Linked DNA regions of Homo sapiens. The protein of the gene in region 4 purifies or fractionates together with the protein of the main gene of each other region. This does not show direct contact. Each region holds a gene or a part of one and is shown on either strand. Other genes may lie near its edges.

What was found.
Region 1: the proteins of GUK1 (region 4) and CLIC4 fractionate together in Homo sapiens (co-fractionation; one large-scale study listed by BioGRID). This does not show direct contact.
Region 2: the proteins of GUK1 (region 4) and LACTB2 fractionate together in Homo sapiens (co-fractionation; one large-scale study listed by BioGRID). This does not show direct contact.
Region 3: the proteins of GUK1 (region 4) and TIGAR fractionate together in Homo sapiens (co-fractionation; one large-scale study listed by BioGRID). This does not show direct contact.
Region 5: the proteins of GUK1 (region 4) and MSRB3 fractionate together in Homo sapiens (co-fractionation; one large-scale study listed by BioGRID). This does not show direct contact.

Annotation. Positions count from the first base shown.
Region 1 is NC_000001.11:24,800,881-24,804,477, reverse strand, and holds part of CLIC4 (chloride intracellular channel protein 4), read right to left. Parts: intron 1-3,597. UniProt on the Homo sapiens protein: In the soluble state, catalyzes glutaredoxin-like thiol disulfide exchange reactions with reduced glutathione as electron donor. Can insert into membranes and form voltage-dependent multi-ion conductive channels.
Region 2 is NC_000008.11:70,659,099-70,662,695, forward strand, and holds part of LACTB2 (endoribonuclease LACTB2), read right to left. Parts: exon of another isoform or gene 2,800-3,597; coding exon 2,636-2,799; exon of another isoform or gene 1,047-2,635; intron 1-1,046.
Region 3 is NC_000012.12:4,327,695-4,331,291, reverse strand, and holds part of TIGAR (fructose-2,6-bisphosphatase TIGAR), read right to left. Parts: intron 13-3,597; coding exon 1-12.
Region 4 is NC_000001.11:228,146,346-228,149,529, reverse strand, and holds the end of GUK1 (guanylate kinase), read right to left. Parts: intron 2,689-3,184; coding exon 2,592-2,688; intron 2,125-2,591; coding exon 1,986-2,124; intron 1,916-1,985; coding exon 1,831-1,915; intron 1,160-1,830; coding exon 1,074-1,159; intron 866-1,073; coding exon 833-865; coding exon of another isoform or gene 678-832; 3' UTR 579-677; downstream 1-578. UniProt on the Homo sapiens protein: Catalyzes the phosphorylation of GMP to GDP. Essential enzyme for recycling GMP and indirectly, cyclic GMP (cGMP). Involved in the cGMP metabolism in photoreceptors. It may also have a role in the survival and growth progression of some tumors.
Region 5 is NC_000012.12:65,285,102-65,288,698, reverse strand, and holds part of MSRB3 (methionine-R-sulfoxide reductase B3 isoform 2 precursor), read right to left. Parts: intron 1-3,597. UniProt on the Homo sapiens protein: Catalyzes the reduction of free and protein-bound methionine sulfoxide to methionine. Isoform 2 is essential for hearing.

The DNA.
Region 1 (3,597 bases), about 200 Mb from region 4:
CTACACACACCCCACCACCCACCCACCCACACATACACACACACCCCCACCACCCACCTACCCACACACACCCCCTCCACCCACCCACCCACACACATGCACACACATACACACACCCCCCACACACACAGTGGGTACACATGTGATTCTGAATGCAGTCATAAAGCACAATTATCTTGAATTGGACTGTTCTAACAAGTGCTTCATGTAGCTCAAGTCAACTTTACAAAGGGGAAAAATGGAGTCTGACTTTCCTGTCTGGACAGCAGCAGGAAATAGATGATGTCTCTGAAAGACAGGCTTATCTCATTCCATTTAGTCTCTTGGCATGTGTCATTCATGCTGCTGCTACTGAAGATCATGGAAGTTGAAATGATTTCTTAAGTTACTGAAGACTGTTTTCAGAAAGGTGGAACCACAGAGACATGATCATGAAGATAAAACTATCTGAAGAGTCTATTTGGGAATCAGATTTTTTTCTGAGTTTCTAACTGCCTTTTAAGATATGCAGAACTATCAGTTTCATAGTTCCATTGTAACATTTTAAACTATTACAAAAGTGAAGTTTTTTTCCCTTTTCTCCTGATTTTAAATATAAGGTAACTAACTCCAAGGAAGATGAGGCAGCTCGCCCCAGGTCCCAGTGAAATCAGTGATAGAGCTCTCTCCATACACAGCTAGGTCTCACTCCTGAAATTTTCTATACTATGCCATGGTTGTTTCCCAACTGATGACATGCCAGAACATCTTTAACTCTGCCCCAATTTTAGTATTTTCACTTATATTATCTGAAGCTTTTGTTCAAATCGTTGATGTAAATTGAAATTCTTTGTGAAGCCTGGGCCCTTTTTTTTCTATCTAAACGTTCTTTAAATTGCAATATGAACAGAAAATTAGATTTGGAAATGACTCCCACCAAAGCACGAAGGCTGCTCTGGCAGGCAAGTAATGGGAGATTGTTCACAGCCTCACAAGGGACACATGAATACTACCAGCATAGTCATTAATGCCAACTGAGATTCAAAGAGAACATGTCATACAGTGCCAGAACTAGAAATGGGCTTGTTCTTATGGATGAAATGTCATGTAACAATCATTTTTTTCAAATCATAGAGTGAGCTGCTAAGTAACTCTCAGAGGAGTTCTATTGTTCTCCACTGGTTTGTTCTGGAGTCAGTACTTCTCACCAAGATATTAGGCAATTACCAGGAAAAGCAGGAAAATAAGCACTGTAGGCATATTTTCTCCCCCAAGATTTCTAAAAAGAGTCACATTTAATGTTTTAAGATTAAGAATATATTATGAAAAGTACTACAGGGATGTTTTATTCCTCTGTGATAACTTTCATATATACTGGTGGGTTGTTTGTTTTTGTTTTTTGAACCAATGCTCACTTTCTTGAGGTACTTTCTCTTTAAAATTTTGTTCAAGACTGCAAGTGTGTAAACTCATAGAAAAGATTTGGACGAGGCCAGGCACAGTGGCTAAAGTCTGTAATCCCAGCACTTTGGGAGACCAAGGCCAGAGGACTGCTTGAGCCCAGGAGTTCAAGACCAGCCTGGGCAACACAGGGAGACCCTGTCTCTTAAAAATAAAAAATTAGCCAGGTATGGCAGTAAATGCCTGTAGTCCTAGCTACTTGGGAGGCTGAGGCTGGAGGATTACTTGAGCCCAGGAGCTCAAGGCTACAGAGTAAGCTGTGATCGTGCCACTGCACTCCAGCCTCGGTGACAGAGGCAGACCGTGTCTCAAAAAAAAAAAAAAAAGAAAAAGAAAAAAGGAAAAGATTTGGAAGAATAAAGACCAAACCTAAAATAAATTATCTCTCTGAAGGGGAAGTTGATGACTAGGGGGTAGGGATGGTACAGACTCATTATCACGTACTACTTGCTTAGTTTTAGTTGCCCTAAGAAGCATTTTTTATATTTACTGGAGACCTATGATTGTTAAAGACCAAAAAATATAAGCTTCAATTTTAAGTGCTCTCTACCATTGATTTTACATAAAGCCCTAGGTAATAAACATATATCTTCTTTGATATTTTCTAATTATAAGGCCCTGAATGCCTACCTCCCATGCGCCACTTTTTATATATATAAACACTTAACATATACACTTACACATATTTCCACATACACACTTTAACATATATATACAAATCTGCAAATATCAATCAACCTATAGGAATAATGCCTTTAAAAAATCTGCAAATGAAAAGAAACAGACAACTCTGAAATAGCTATAATGGGTTTACTTCCTTTTCTGACCCAGATTCCCATGTTTATGGCACTATTACTGGTATGTATCACAATTAAAGCACTGTATTAAACTATTCAATGACAGCTTTTTCAAAGAATGGCAGTCAACTCACTTGCTCCAAGCCAAAAATGGAATAGGAGAAATTCATGTATTTTAGGACACAGTAAGGGTGTGTGCCTGGTGGCACACTCTATTTTTAGGAGTTATATTGGGAAACTTGCTTTGTGTACACATGTATAAAAAAAAAACAGTAATAGAAGGGTAACTACATGACTTATTTCATTCTTACATCTCTGCCCAACATGAATAAGGTAATGTCTTCCCAAGAGCTTGTAGTTTTAACTCACTATTCCCAAAGGCTTATTTCTACATTTATATACATAACTAAAGGGGTTCCTTGATGACTTTATGGCTTATGTTCAATAAATTTTAAAGTCTGTAAAATTTCAAATATATGCACTAGCAGTAAGTAAAAATGTATTTTAAGGGAATGACAGAAATCTGAGTACACTAACCTAGAACTTGGAATGGAATTATAGCTCTCAGGTAACTATCAGCATGTGATGCTCAGAGGGATAACATAGATTAATTCTGCCACTTTATCAAGTGATAGGCTGTCAATATCTTTTCCTGGACACTGTTCATGACTTGATATATAATATGGTTTAAATTTCTGTCCTTGCCCAAATCTCATATCAAATTGTAATTTTCAATGGTGGAAGAGGGGCCTTGTGGGAGGTGACTGGATCACAAGGGCAGACTTCCCTTGCTGTTCCTGTGACAGAGAGTGAGTTCTCACAAGATCTGGTTGTTTAAAAATATGTAACACCTCCCCCTTCTCTCTTCTTCCTTCTCCGGCCATGAAAGACATGTCTGCTTCCCCTTTGACTTCTATCATACTTGTAAGTCTCCTGAGGCCTCCCCAGACAAGTTTCCTGTACAACCTGCAGAACTGCCAGTCAATTAAACCTCTTTTCTTTATGAATTACCCAGTCTCAGGTAGTTCTTTATAGCAATGTGAGAACAGACTAATAGTTTTAAAAATCAGTATAATAGCAAATCATGTTGTGACACTTGCATCAAGAGGAATCCACTGCCAAACCCTAGTTTTTCCCATTAATACAACTATTCTTTTTTTTTTTTTTAATTTATTTTTTTATTGATAATTCTTGGGTGTTTCTCACAGAGGGGGATTTGGCAGGGTCATGGGACAATAGTGGAGGGAAGGTCAGCAGATAAACAAGTGAACAAAGGTCTCTGGTTTTCCTAGGCAGAGGACCCTGCGGCCTTCCGCAGTGTTTGTCCCTGATTACTTGAGATTAGGGAGTGGTGATGACT
Region 2 (3,597 bases), on a different chromosome or scaffold from region 4:
GCAAAATACTGGCTAGGAAGAGTGGAGATAAAGTTGGATAGGTAAGATAAGCTCAGATCAGAAAGGGTCTCAAATTGCCTTTTACAAAATAGGAGAATTTAAACTTTACCACGTGTAATCACTGCACACTCTTTAGTAAGATAATGAAATAGTGTTAACTGATGATCAATATGGCGGCTGTGGGTAGGGAGACCAAAAGGAGATCAGAGAGCCCAGGAGGGGAATGACTACAATTTCCCAGCTAGAAGGTAATGAATAGTAGGGTTAAGACGGTAGCACTGGAAATATGAAGGGAGAAAGAGATATTTCAAAGAAAAATGGACAAGGCACAGAAATTTGCTAGTTTGAGGATAAAGGAGACAGAAACACTGAAATAAAAAGAAACAACAACAAATACCACCTCCCCTTCCAACCCCAAACTCTATTATTTTGTATCTAAGAGGCCGAAGGAAAACAATGATATGCTTTTCTGGGAATTGACATTATATAACAAGATTGAGATATTGAGGTTTTTTTGTTTGTTTTGTTTATAAGCTGTATAATTTTATCTTTCAGTAAAGAAATGGAGGCATTACATTTCTGCTTATGAGACCTTTAGTAGACAATTAAAAAATCACAATTATATCAAAATTACAAAATAAATGTCATACTATAACTTTGTATCTGTCTTCAAAATTATGTGCAAATATAAATGAAAACACATATCCTATTTGAGTGGTTGTTGGAGGCTGGGGATGGGGGAAATCACTGCAAAGCAGCATGAGGGGACCTCTTTTTGGAATGGAGGAAGTGTTCCATATCTTGACTGGAATGGTCACATAGGTATTGATGTTTGTTAAAACTCACTAAACTGTTCACTTAAAATGGGCACATTTTATGTATGTAAATTAAAGCTCAATAAAATTGATTTATGAAGGAAAAAAGTGGGCCATAAACATTTTAATTTTTCAAACTGAAAAATCTGAAGAGTTGGCTGAGGTGACAAAGCTAATTAAGAAATCACAGAGTAGTTTCTTTTTTTTTTTCTTTTTTTTTCCCGCAAACAGGGTTTCACTTTGTAGCTCAGGCTGGTCTTGAACTGCTGGGCTCAAACTATCGTCCTGCCTCAGTCTCCTGAGTGGATGGGATTATAAGCACACACCACCGTCCCTGGCATAAAATAGTTTTTTAATTCACAAGATTTAATAGGTAGATTAAAAGAAGAGGTAAGACAAAATTAAAAGAGGTAAGACAAGAGAAGGAAAAGTCAGACTGACAGATTATAAGTTCCTATGGTACACAGTCCCCTTAGATTGGAAGAAAGGAGCTAAGAGGGTAAGGAAGCTTGGTTGCCAGTTTTTTATAACTGGCAGCCTGGTGATATTGGGTGTGGTAGCTGAGATGTCCCAATTGTAGTCACAAGGCCTAAAAAAGCAGATCTTTACAAATGTTTAAAAATACTAGCTCAATGTAAATAAGCATGAATGTTCTTGACCTCCTTACTGTGCCCTGAATGTGCCAACCACACTCTCATTCCACCATCTTTGCTCCTGCAATGCTGTTTGCCTGCAGGCCTTCCTGCCAGGAGCTTGCTCCTTCTCTCTGTCCACTCTGGATATAACAGCCCTTGCCCTTCTCCACTTTACGCTCTCTTCCCTTTCTCTTCTTGTACCTTTATTTTCCTGCATAGCACCCATGATTATCTGATCTATTTTTTTCCCTTTTTTTTTCATTCTGGTGCCCAGGCTGGAGTGCAGTGGCACAATATTGGCTTACTGCAGCCTCAGCTTCCCTGGCTCAAGCCATCTGCCCACCTTAGCCTCCCGAGTAGCTGGGACTGCAGGTGCACGCCACCATACCCGGGAAATTTTTGTACTTTTTTTGTAGAGACAGGGTCTTGCTATGTTGCCCAAGCTGGTCTTGAACTCCTGAGCTCAAGCAATCCACACACCTTGACCTCCCAAAGTGCTGGGATTACAGGCATGAGCCACTGCACCCAGCCTGATCTATTATTTATTTACCAGTACCTTCCCTACTGGAATGAAAGCTCCATGAGAACAGAGTCTGTTTTGTTCACTGCTATACCCCTTGTGCCAAGAACACTGTCTGACATATAACAGTAACTGGAATATTTAATGAATGAATGAATGAATCTAGGTATATGATGGTGGGATGAGGAAATAAAGAGATAGAAAATGTCAGTACTGTATAGGTTTCAGGGACAATGAATTATCAATACAATGATATATTGCCTGAATTTCAGCATATCTTAGTAACTGCCTTAAAGTTACAGAAGGACTGAGATAATCTGTTAGAATGTGAACAATAAGAGCACCTACCTCACAGTATCCACATAAATTGTTTAGTGCAGTGCCTGGCACAGAGTAAATGCTCAACAGTTGTTAGTTATGATTAAGTCTGAATAGTAACTCACACACTAAAGTAAAATTGAGGATTTGAAACAGAAATCAGGATTTCCGTTCCTCCTTTGTTAAAACTAGGCACAGTATTCAACAGTCTAATCAATTTCTAAAAGTACCATTTAAAACTGAGGTATTTAGTAAATGGTTTATAGACTACTTAGCTCTGTAACTGAAATAAATTATTCTCCAAACACGGCTTTCCTCAATGAGCTTAATGAATGTTTTCTGTTTACCATTATTGATGCTTTTACAAATATCTCCTATGCCTCCAGAATGATCTCGGTGCCAGTGAGTCACTACAATTTCCTGGATTGCTGTGTTAAATTCAGTTAGAGCCTGCTTTAAACAGCTGATGTATTCTGGAATTGCTGGTTCTCCAGTGTCAATGAGGATTCTCCTGAAAATTAAATGGAAGATAATCACACAATTGGAACACTGCGTTGACATTAGCATTATTTTGCACACAGATAATTTACATTAAAGAAACTGCAAAAATTATTTTACTTTTAACATGCACAAAAACCAGCTACATCACTTCAGCTTAACTACAGTAATCTCACCCTAAGAAAGTTTTCTGAGAAAAATTAGAGCTAAATATAAGTCTGAACAAGGAATAATAGCAGTCATCTTGAACATTTACATAGCAATTAAAATAAACATGGCACCATTCCAAGGACTTTACATATTTTACCAATTACATTCCTCGTAACAACTGTTTAAAGTAGATATTTTATCATTATATTTAGAAGTAACTTGCCCAGGTTACTCTACAGATAAATGGCAGAAACAGCTTTCAAACCCAGGTATTCTGATGCCAGAATATGTGCTTTTATCTATCTGCCTTTGAGATCTCATATCTCAGTATATTTCAAAAGTTTTATAGATATGAAAGATTTTGATTCAATGGCACCCCTAAAGAAACTAGTCTTTGGCACTAGATATACAACTTATCACTGAAGTTTTATATTAGCACCCTGACACATGAAAATGAAGGCTTTAGTGAAGCATGGGAAAAACATCTGAGCTATTTTCTTTCTTTACTTAGACAACCCCATTAGCTGTATTTTTTGCTTGTGGTTCTGAATCTTCCTTATATTTTGTTTGCCCTTCCTCACGATTTTATGAGGTGGCCTTTCTCTGTGAAGTTTTGCTGAACTAAAGACATGGGGGTGACATGTTCCTCAAGATCCAATTC
Region 3 (3,597 bases), on a different chromosome or scaffold from region 4:
CTTGTTTCTCCACTAAAATAGAAAGAGAAGGACAACCTTATTAGCCAAATTATACTGTTTTTGAGAGGAGGAAAAAAATGAGCAATCAAGTGTGGTGATACTCTAAAAATATCATGTGAAACTTGTAACACACTTCATAATCCAACCTGTAAAAACAATTTATTCTAAACTAATATTTGCAATTGTCTTCTTTAATGAAGAGCTAAGAATTTCAAACTACTCCAAACTAAAACGTGTAGATCAGGAACCAATCTTAAGTGAATTGCAGGTGGAAAATCCTACTAAAAAATATAATGCAAATAACATTTCAGCCAAATAATTTTGTTAAAAGAAATATATTGATCAAAACTACTCTTACTGGCAGCAGGAACAAAAACGTGAGAGTCAGTCTATTCATTGCTGGACTGAATGAGCAAGTGAAAGAGAATCTGAATGGAATGGGAGAGACGTGCACAAACCTTCAGAACCCCCTGCCTTCTCTTAGTTCCTAGGTCTTCAGCAGTTATTTTTTGTAGTACTGACAGCTATCTCGCAGACCAACTAACTGCACACTGAACTGAGGTTTGAGTACTACACTTTTAAAAACTAAAATACCAAAACAAATCAAAGCAATCTGAACCAACCGGAAGGGTAAAAGAACTGGAAACTTTGTCAGAAAATAACTGGGGTTACTGAGGCTGGAGGGGGAAAAGGGCGGGAAGTGCATGGGCAAGACTGGACAGACAGCAGGATAGGTTAACAATAATGCAACTTTCAAATACATGAAAAGTAGAATCAAAGAGAATTCAGCTGAAATTTCTTTGAGCACTAATTAAATGTTTGCTGACCCAACCTACCACTAGAATTGCTGGGCCATAAGGTATGCAAATACCAGCTTTATTAGGTAATGCCAGTGTCATAGCAGGTTACACCACCCTGTAGTGTGGTGTACCACCCTCAACAAGATTCAGTGATGGAAGGTTTCTTCAATTTGTACCAATCTGGTACCTGAACAATTCATCTCACTTTAATTTTAATTTGCATTTCCTTGATTTCGATGGAAAATGATCGCTCCATTGTTTTTAAGTGAAGCACTAGTTTATAATAATTAAAATGTCACATAGGACTGATTTACTCAGATCTAGAAAAAAAAATCTACCAGACCTGGAAGTCAGAATCACAAACTCAGGCCTCATCCTGGAATCTTGCCGCTTGTTTACAAAAACAGCTGTATGCCAACCTCTGCCAAGATACAGATTGCTGGATTTGGCCAATATGAATGTTCTTTAAGACCCAACACAAGACTGGTTCTTTTAGGTAGTCTCCCTCCCCAGTACCATTCCCCATCTACCTACTCTATTTAATACCCACACTCTATACTCCCATGGTCCCCTGGCACTACCAACATAAGTTTTCATCTGTGTGCTAATTGACTTTTTAGCTCTGTGTCTATCCTGGCTCCAGTTCCTTAAAGGCACAAGCAGGGATTGCATACCCTCAACATGCCCAGGGCCTGGAGAAAATGCTGGGAAATGACAGAACTTCAGTGAATGTGCTTTTACCTAGGGAGGGTCATCTGGAAATACCTATCAAAATGACAAATCTGTTTACCCTTTTATCCAATAACCCAATTACTGGGAATAACTGAATTCACTCATATTTAAAAGATTATTTGTGGCCAGACGTGGTGGCTCATGCCCGTAATTCCAGCACATTGGGAGTCCGAGGTGGGTAGATCACGATGTCAGGAGTTCAAGCCCAGCATGGCCAAGATGATGAAACCCCATCTCTACTAAAAATACAAAATTTAGCCATGCGTGGTGGCGGGCGTCTGTAATCCCAGCTACTCGGGAGACTGAGGCACAAGAATTGTTTAAACCCGGGAGGCAGAGGTTGCAGTGAGCTGCAATCACACCACTGCACTCCAGTATGGGTGAGAGAGCAAGACCCTGTCTCACAAAAAAAAAAAAAAAAAAAAAAAAAAGATCATTAGCTACAGTATTATTTCTAATAGCAACAGATTATAAACAACCCAAATGTCCATAACTCATTCCTTAACTATGGCCAGAATAACCATTATTTATATTAACAAATAAACAGTGACATATCTACCTAATGGAATCCTATGTAAATGTGTCCTTTAAAGAGAGAGATTATATGTAAAGATATGGAATGCTCACCAAGATATATGATTAAGTAGAAAAAGCAGGGTATAGAGTAATATAAAAAGAAAGCTACCCTTTTAGAAAGGAGGGAAATAAACATCTGGATCTGCACAAAGAAACAATGGAAGGATAAACATGAAACTAATAAATGTGGCCACCTATTGGTTGGGGGAAGAATAGGAAGACTACGGAGAATTGTTTTGATTTCTAAATATGTAGATGTATTAGCTTAAAAAATAAACGTATGATAAAGAAATAAAATTACACAGAACTGGCCAGGCACGGTGGCTCACGCCTGTAATCCCAGCACTTTGGGAGGCCGAGGTGGGCAGATCACGAGGTCAGGAGTTCGGGACCAGCCTGGCCAACAAGGTGAAACTCCGTCTCTGATAAAAATACAAAAATCAGCCAGGCATGGTGGTGAGTGCCTGTAGTCCCAGCTACTCGGGAGGCTGAGGCAGAAGAATCGCTTGAACCTGGGAGGTGGAGGTTGCAGTGAGCCAAGATCATGCCACTGCACTTCAGCCTGGGCAACAGAGCAAGACTCTGTCTCCAAAAAAAAAAAAAAATACATGGAACTATTTATACCTTGGTAAAAAACCAACAGCACTGATTTGCCATTATCATTGTTGTTAATATTAATAAAAGATTACCTAGGCCACATGCAGTGGCTCATGCCTGTAATCCCAGCACTTTGGGAGGCCAAGGAGGGCAGATCACCTGAGGTCAGGAGTCCGAGACCATCCTGGCCAACATGGTAGAATCCTGTGTCTACTAAAAATACAAAAATTAGCCAGGCGTGGTGGCAGGCACCTGTAATCCCAGCTATTCGGGAGGCTGAGGCAGGAGAATGACTTGAACCCAGGAGGTGGAGGTTGCAGTGAGCCAAGATCATGCCATTGCACTCCAGCCTGGGCGACAAAAGCAAGACCTCATCTCAAAAAAAAAGATTTCCTACACTCCAAAATTCATTCAGAATCTTATAAAATGGGCATGAAAGAGGATATTAGCCTCTACCATTCAGATGGATAAAGCAGAAGCATTCAGGGCAAACATGGGGAACCTGTCATTTTTAATCTAGAAAATAGTTACCATGTATTGGATTCACTTCCTGTCTCAGCCTCAAAATCTTGCTGAGACCAAGAATAAAATATCTGTTATTTCAATATAAGTAACATCCTCGGCTGGGCGCGGTGGCTCATGCCTGTAATCCCAGCACTTTGGGAGGCCGAAGCAGGCGGATCATGAGGTCAGGAGTTTGAGACCAGCCTGGCCAATATGGTGAAACCCCGTCTCTACCAAAAATACAAAAATTAGCTGGGCGTGGTGGTGTGTGCCTGTAGTCCCAGCGACTCGGGAGGCTGAGGCAGAAGAATCGCTTGAACCCAGGAGGCGGAGGCTGCAGTGAGCCGAGATTGCGCCCTCAAAAACAAAACAAAACAAGTAACATCCT
Region 4 (3,184 bases):
CTAGGCTCAGAACAGGGCTGGGGCTGACCCTAGGGGTGGCTGGCAGCACGGCCCTGTGCTGCCTTAGACAGGCAAGCTGGGGGAGCACTGGGGAAGGAGGGAGGCAGCCTGAGCAGAGGAGGCTCCTCACACACCACACACAGCCCCTGGGGCAGCTAGGGGAGGGGCATCTCCCTCAGGGAACCCCTTAGACCTCGAGATCTAGAACCTCCAGCTGCCAGAGCTCAGGGGCCTCTCCTGGAACCTCTGGCCCATGCCAGACCCACAGGGTCGGGCACCAAGAGGCAGCCCTCAGGGCCCACCCCTGCAGCCTCAGGCTGCCCCATGCAGCCGCTTCCTGCTCCCCACTTGCCAGCCTGCCAGGTGGGTTGGGACCAGCCCTGCCACCTTCCCTGCCTGCCAGTCAAGCATCATGCTGCCCTGGGGCAGCAGCCACGAGCCGGCAGGCAGCAGATGCCTAGGCAGAGGCCATCTTGTGGCCCTCCTTGGGGCTGGTGGTTAGGGTGGGCTGCCGGAGCTCAGGGCCCGATCGGGATGATGGGGCCCCACCAACCTTGGGGCCACATTCCACTCATTTATGGAGTTTCTAATCCAACAGTTATTTTATTAGGATGTCAGCCCTGGGTCCAGAGTGAGAGATAGGGACAGGGGACAGCCCAGCGAGGCTGGGTCGGGGGTCACCCCAGGATGTTCCAACCACAGGGGCAGCATCTCCTCCACTCCACATGCTGGCCAAGGGCACAGAGCTGCCGTATCGCCTGCCAAGGGGGTGGCTCAATGCTGCTGCCCTGGTCCTGTATGGGCCCGGGGTGCCGAGAACAGACAGCAAGCCTCAGGCGCCGGTCCTTTGAGCTTTCTTGATTTCCTGCCAGTGAGGAAGAAAGGGAGTTGGGAGGGCTGGTATCCAGGAAGGGCTGGGCTTCCTGCTCTCCCTCCACCGTGGACCTCGGTGTCTCATGCCAGTGCTTGGGTAGGACTGTCCCATCTAACCTCAGTGGCCTCATGGACAACAAAGGCCTGGCCCCCAGGCCTCCCCTTGGGCCTTGCCCAGGTAGGCACAAGGATGGGCCCACCTCAGAGAGCGCCTCCTTCAGCTCTGCGTAGGCCTGGTCCAGGCTGTCGTTAATGATGACCACATCAAACAGGCCGGGCTCCTTGCCTGTGGGTGGGGCCTGGGGTCAGGGCACAGTGAGCCCATGCAGCCCCACCCCAGGTCCCACACGACCCCCAGAGCAGCCCACTGGCCTGCGGCTGTCCTCACTGCGGCTGTGGGACAGCTTTCCAGCCCAGCCGGGCCTGTGCAGGGTAGGGAAGGGCCGCCCCCTGGGCCTCAGTCCTCAGGCACCACTCCTGCTCTCTCTGGAGCCCCAGAACTTGGGTCTGGACACCAGCACCCATCAGGACTCTGGTTAGGGGCTACACTATCCTCTACACACACAGCAGAACATTAAATGCCCTCTTCTTGTGGGCTGCAGTCAGACCCAGAGAAGAGGCAACAGCTGTAAGAGGATGCACATGACACCCCCGGGGCTAGAAGGTTGGGGACATCTCATGGGACCCTGGGCGATGGGGGGTCTGGGGGCCCTCACGGAGACTCTGGGTAACAGAGGGAAATCTGAGGACCCTCAATGAGACCCTTGGTGACTGGGGGTGGGTTCTGGGGACCCTCACGGGGACTCTAGGTGTTGGGAGGTAGTTGAGAGGTCTGAGGACCCTCACAGGGACTCCAGGTGTCAGGAGGTCTGGGGACCCACAGGGTCCCTGGTGCCACAGACCTCAGAACCCTGACTCCCCTCCTGGCATTCCCTGGTGATCCCACGGCACACTCACTGCTCTCCATGTCGGCCTGGGCAGCAGCCAGCCGCTTCACCAGGCTCTCCTCGGTTTCAGTGTTGCGCTGCCGCAGCCGCTGCTCCTAAAAAGGGGGTGGCAATCAGAGCCTGGCATGCCCTGGCCCCCAGCCCCCAACCCTGCCCAGCACACACCAGCACGTGCAGTGAAGGCGGCTGCACAGAGATGTAGATGGGCCGCAGATCGGTGGCCTTGATGTTCCGCACACCCTGCAGGTCCACGTCCAGCACACAGATGCGGTTCATGGCCTGCACGGCCTGCACCGCCACCTTGCTGGGGAGAGGTGCCAGGTCAGCAGGGGTGCCAGGGCTCTCTGAGGCCTACAGGAGCTTCAGGGACACCCAGGCCCTCCCGGGCCCAGCGTTCTCCTCCCACAGCTGAGCCTAGGCCTGGCCTGGACCCAGCACCCGACAGCATCTCAAACCTGCTACCCCCACGCCCTGCCCCGCCTACAGGGAACAGAGGCCACCCACTCCCCAAGGTGCCTGTAGTGAGCATGAGGTGTCCTGTGCACCCTTCACCCTGCCAGGACAATGCACGGTGGCAGGACCGGGCCCAGCAGCCTCATGAAAAGAGCCACTGTGGGCCACAGACGTGGGAGCCTGGCCCTGGGCCACAACCTGGCCACATTCATAACCATGGGGTGGGTGGTGTGGATGGCGGGCAGGCAGCAGGCACTACCTGGATCCCTGTTGCCAACAGCAACCCTGGGAGCCCACCCACACCCACGCATGGCCCACCTCGTGCCATACAGGTTCCCCGAGAACTCGGCATGCTCGATGAAGTCGCCGGCTGCTATGTCACGCTGCATCACCTCCCTGGTTACAAAGTAGTAATCTGGGGAAGAGGAGGGGCCATCCAGAGGGCAGACTGGACCTGCACCAGGGTGCCCAGGGCCAGCTGCCCCCAACCCAGGCATGCCTGCAGGCCCCTCCCACACCCACGACTGCTTTAGTCAGATCCTTGCTGGGCAGGAGACATCTGAGGACCCCTCAAGTGCTGCCAAGTGCCTGAGCCAGACACCATTTCTCACACTGTCCTCACTGATGGAGATACGAGACTGCTGGGTTCCAGTGGGGAGTTGGGAGTTGGTGGTGATGGGGTGGGGACTGGAGACCAACAGGTTCTGGGGGAAGGTGGTGGGGGAACTGGAGACCGTCAGGTTACAGAGGGGACGATGTGGTGGGGTGACTGGAGACCACTGGGTTGCACGGCAAGGGGCGGGGGTGCTGTTGGGAAGGGGGTCCCTTGTCTTGAATCAGGCAGGCAGAGTAGCCCTTTTTACCAGGACTCCAGAAGACAGCTCAAAAGTGCTGATAAGTGCCGAGTCCAG
Region 5 (3,597 bases), on a different chromosome or scaffold from region 4:
TATTGTCAAGCATAAATAAGCAATTCCCAGCTGTACATTTAGAAAGACATAATTTCTAGTCCTTAATACCATTACTTCAGATGGGATATTTAATATGATGCTTCTGATACATTGTAATCTATTCTTTAAATACTAAATCTTTAAAAGGGTTATGTAACTTTGCCAGTAGCTCAAATTACTGGGCACACTAGGCTACGAAGTTCAAACATAAGATCTTAGATGCAGTGTAACACTTATAGTGAATCGCACAAGATAGTCAACTTGAACAAAATATTTTTTAAAAAGACATAATTTTGCATACTGTATTAACTATATTTTTCCATTAAAAATTACAGAAAGTTGGAGACTTTAAAATAATCCTTAAATTACAGAATCTTTTTTTTTTTTTTTTGCGGGGGGGACGGGGTCTCGCTCTCTTGCCAGGCTGGAGTGCTGTGGCATGATCTTGGCTCACTGGAACCTCCGCCTCCCGGGTTCAAGTGATTCTCCTGCCTCAGCCTCCTGAGTAGCTGGGACTACAGGCACACACCACCACGCCCAGCTAATTTTGGTATTTTTAGTAGAGATGGGGTTTCACCATGCTGGTCAGGATGGTCTCAATCTCTTGACCTCGTGATCCGCCCGACTCAGCCTCCCAAAGTGCTGAGATTACAGGCAAGAGCCACCATGCCCAGCCTACAGAATCTTAAAGCAACACCAGGTATTACCCAGTCCAATTCATTCATTTTGCAGATATGAAAACTGAGGCACAAGAAGCTTAAACGACTCAGGCAAAAACAAGACTAGAAAAACCTAGTTTTCCAATTCACTGTCAAATGTTCTTTTCATAATACTACACTGACTCCCCTGCAACACAAACACATACACAAGGATGCAAATATGTAAATGAGCCTATAATTTTTCAAGTGGCTCTGCACGCAGGTAAACATGCTCTGCCCTCAACCCTCCTCTTCCTGGCCCCCTAAGGCGATCTGACTAGAAGGCATATTCACACCCCACAAAATCAGAAACAAGGGGGACTACAGTGCACTTTTTCCTTTTTGCTCTCAATTACTGTGAGACCAGAGTTGCAAAACAACTTGTGGCTTTTCACCCATTTCCCTATCTAATCTGGACTGTTACAGGAAGATATGACCTTACCTTTCCTTAGCTACACACCACTAATCTAAGATAAAATAAGTATTCACCTATAATAGGCCCTATAGTTCTCTCTCAACCCCAACCAAACTCAGGTTCTCTGACAATCAAACACAATAAAAACAAAAGAAATGTACTGGGCGTGGAGGCTCATGCCTATAATCCCAGCACTTTGAGAGGCCAAGGTGGGAGGACTGCTTAAGTCCAGGAGTTCAAGACCTACCTGGGAAACATAGGGAGACCCTATCTCTACATAAATTTTTTTTAAAAAATTAGCCATGCATGATGACACAAGCCTGTAGTCCTAGCTACTCAGGAGGCTGAGGTGGGAGGATCACTTGAGCCCAGGAGGTCAAGGCTACAGTGTGCAGTGTGCTATGATCCTGCCATGGCACTCCAGCCTGGGCGGCAGCCAAAAAAAAAAAAAAAAGAGAAATGAAAGAACAAACATAAAATTTAGGGCTATCTAATTTATACAAAGACTGTCCTGAGTTGTTTTTCGGTTTTTGGTTTTGCTTTTTTTTTTTTTTTTTTTTTTTTTGAGAAAGGGTCTCGCTCTGTCACCCAGAATGGAGTACAGTGGTGCAATCATAGCTCACTGTAGCCTCGAACTCCTGGGCTCAAGCGATTCTCCCACCTCAGCCTCCAGAGGAGGTGGGACCACAGGTGCATGCCAGCACACCTTGCTAATTTCTTTTTTTAATTTTTAGTAGAGGCTAGGTCTTCCTATGTTGCTCAGGCTGGTCTCGACCTCCTGGCCTCAAGTGATCCTCCTTCCTTGCCTCCCAAAGTGGTGGGATTACAGGCATGAACTACTGTGCCTTGCCTGAGTGTTTTTTTTTTTTTAATAGATTCTACCATGTAGCACAGGCTTATTTTCAATAATGCCTTAAGTCTTACATATGTACTGAAAGATGTTTTTGTCTTTAAATAAAATAAGTGACCCAAGAAACCATAAGGATTTGTTATGTAATTTATAGTAACAGAAGACATGTCACGGCTATAACAGAGACCTGTAGGTGTATACTCACATGCAAATCAACTAAATTTCACTTTAAAATAGCACTGTAGTCCCAACAACAATGCTCATATACCTAAAAATATAATTTTTAAAAAGTATTTATTTATTGTATCTGACTTCTAATCCATGAGACTATTTAAAAGTCCAGTCTTAGTATAAAGTACATTGTCTGGCATAACATATATAAATTTTATTGTAAGAGGATTCTGAGAAGGTGTTTCCCTGTCATTCCAAAATTTCCGCTATGGCTCAAATTTTCAAATAGAAGTTTTCCCCCATACCCCACATTCTAAAGTAAGAGGACAATGAGATACTCAAAGTTGAGACCAGAACTTCCTGAGAGTATCCATAAAGCAAGAAATCAAGTGTCCATAGACTCTATAAGTCATAATTTCCACATGTATACTTTCCAAATATATGAGAATTTTTTTTACATTTACAAGAACTTATTTCAAAGTTTTATAGTAGCTTTTGCTGTTACGTATTTTCTCAGTCAACAGATACTAAAAACATAGTTACTACTACATGAAAGGGTCTCCATTATTTTTAAAGAGTTGGAAATTACTCAATACTATATACTGTATGTAAATGTGTCACTTTAGACAAATGTTATGAATAATATACTATTTTTATAAACCTAGAATCAGGATATACCATTCGCCTGGGAACTAGACCCTAAGAAAACACTTCCTGGTTTTTTGGGGATTTTTGTTTGTTTTCTGAGATAGGGTCTCACTCTATTGCCCAGTCTGGAGTGCAGTGGCACGATCTTGGCTCACTGCAACCTCTGCTTCCTGGGCTCAAGCAATCCTCTCACCTCAGCCTCCTGAGTAGCCAGGACTACAAGCATGCAACACAATGCCCAGCTAATTTTTGTAGTTTTTGTAGAGATGGGTCTCACTACGCCGCCCAGGCTGGACTCAAGTGATCCACCCGCCTCAGCCTCCCAAAGTGCTGGGATTACGGGTATGAGCCACCAAACCCAGCCGAAAACACCTCCTATACCAGCATTCTTTCTCTGTTTCACCTATATTCATCTCCACATTTTATAAACCTCTTTAATCGTGTAAATAAAGCCCTCTCATAAAATACATTCCCTCAACTTTCCTTTAGGAAACCAAGTATCAATAAATAGCCCTGAGGTTTCCACATCAGCACAGCTGGGTAACCCAATCACAGCAATGCCCAGTAACAATGCTGCTCCAGGCTACCACGGCCAAGTGTCAGAGATCAGGGTATAGTGACCGGAGTGGCCAACTCAAGTAAGTGTACAGGAACCTTGCAGTCAACACTTGAAGAGATAAGGCAAGCAAGGAATTCTGTAAAAATGAGGGAAGTATGTGATTTATCATTATTTTTCATTTTACATTAGGAAGTTATCAATAATTATTTTATGGATAAGAACCTGACCATGGCCACAAAAAGTAACCATAAAGGAC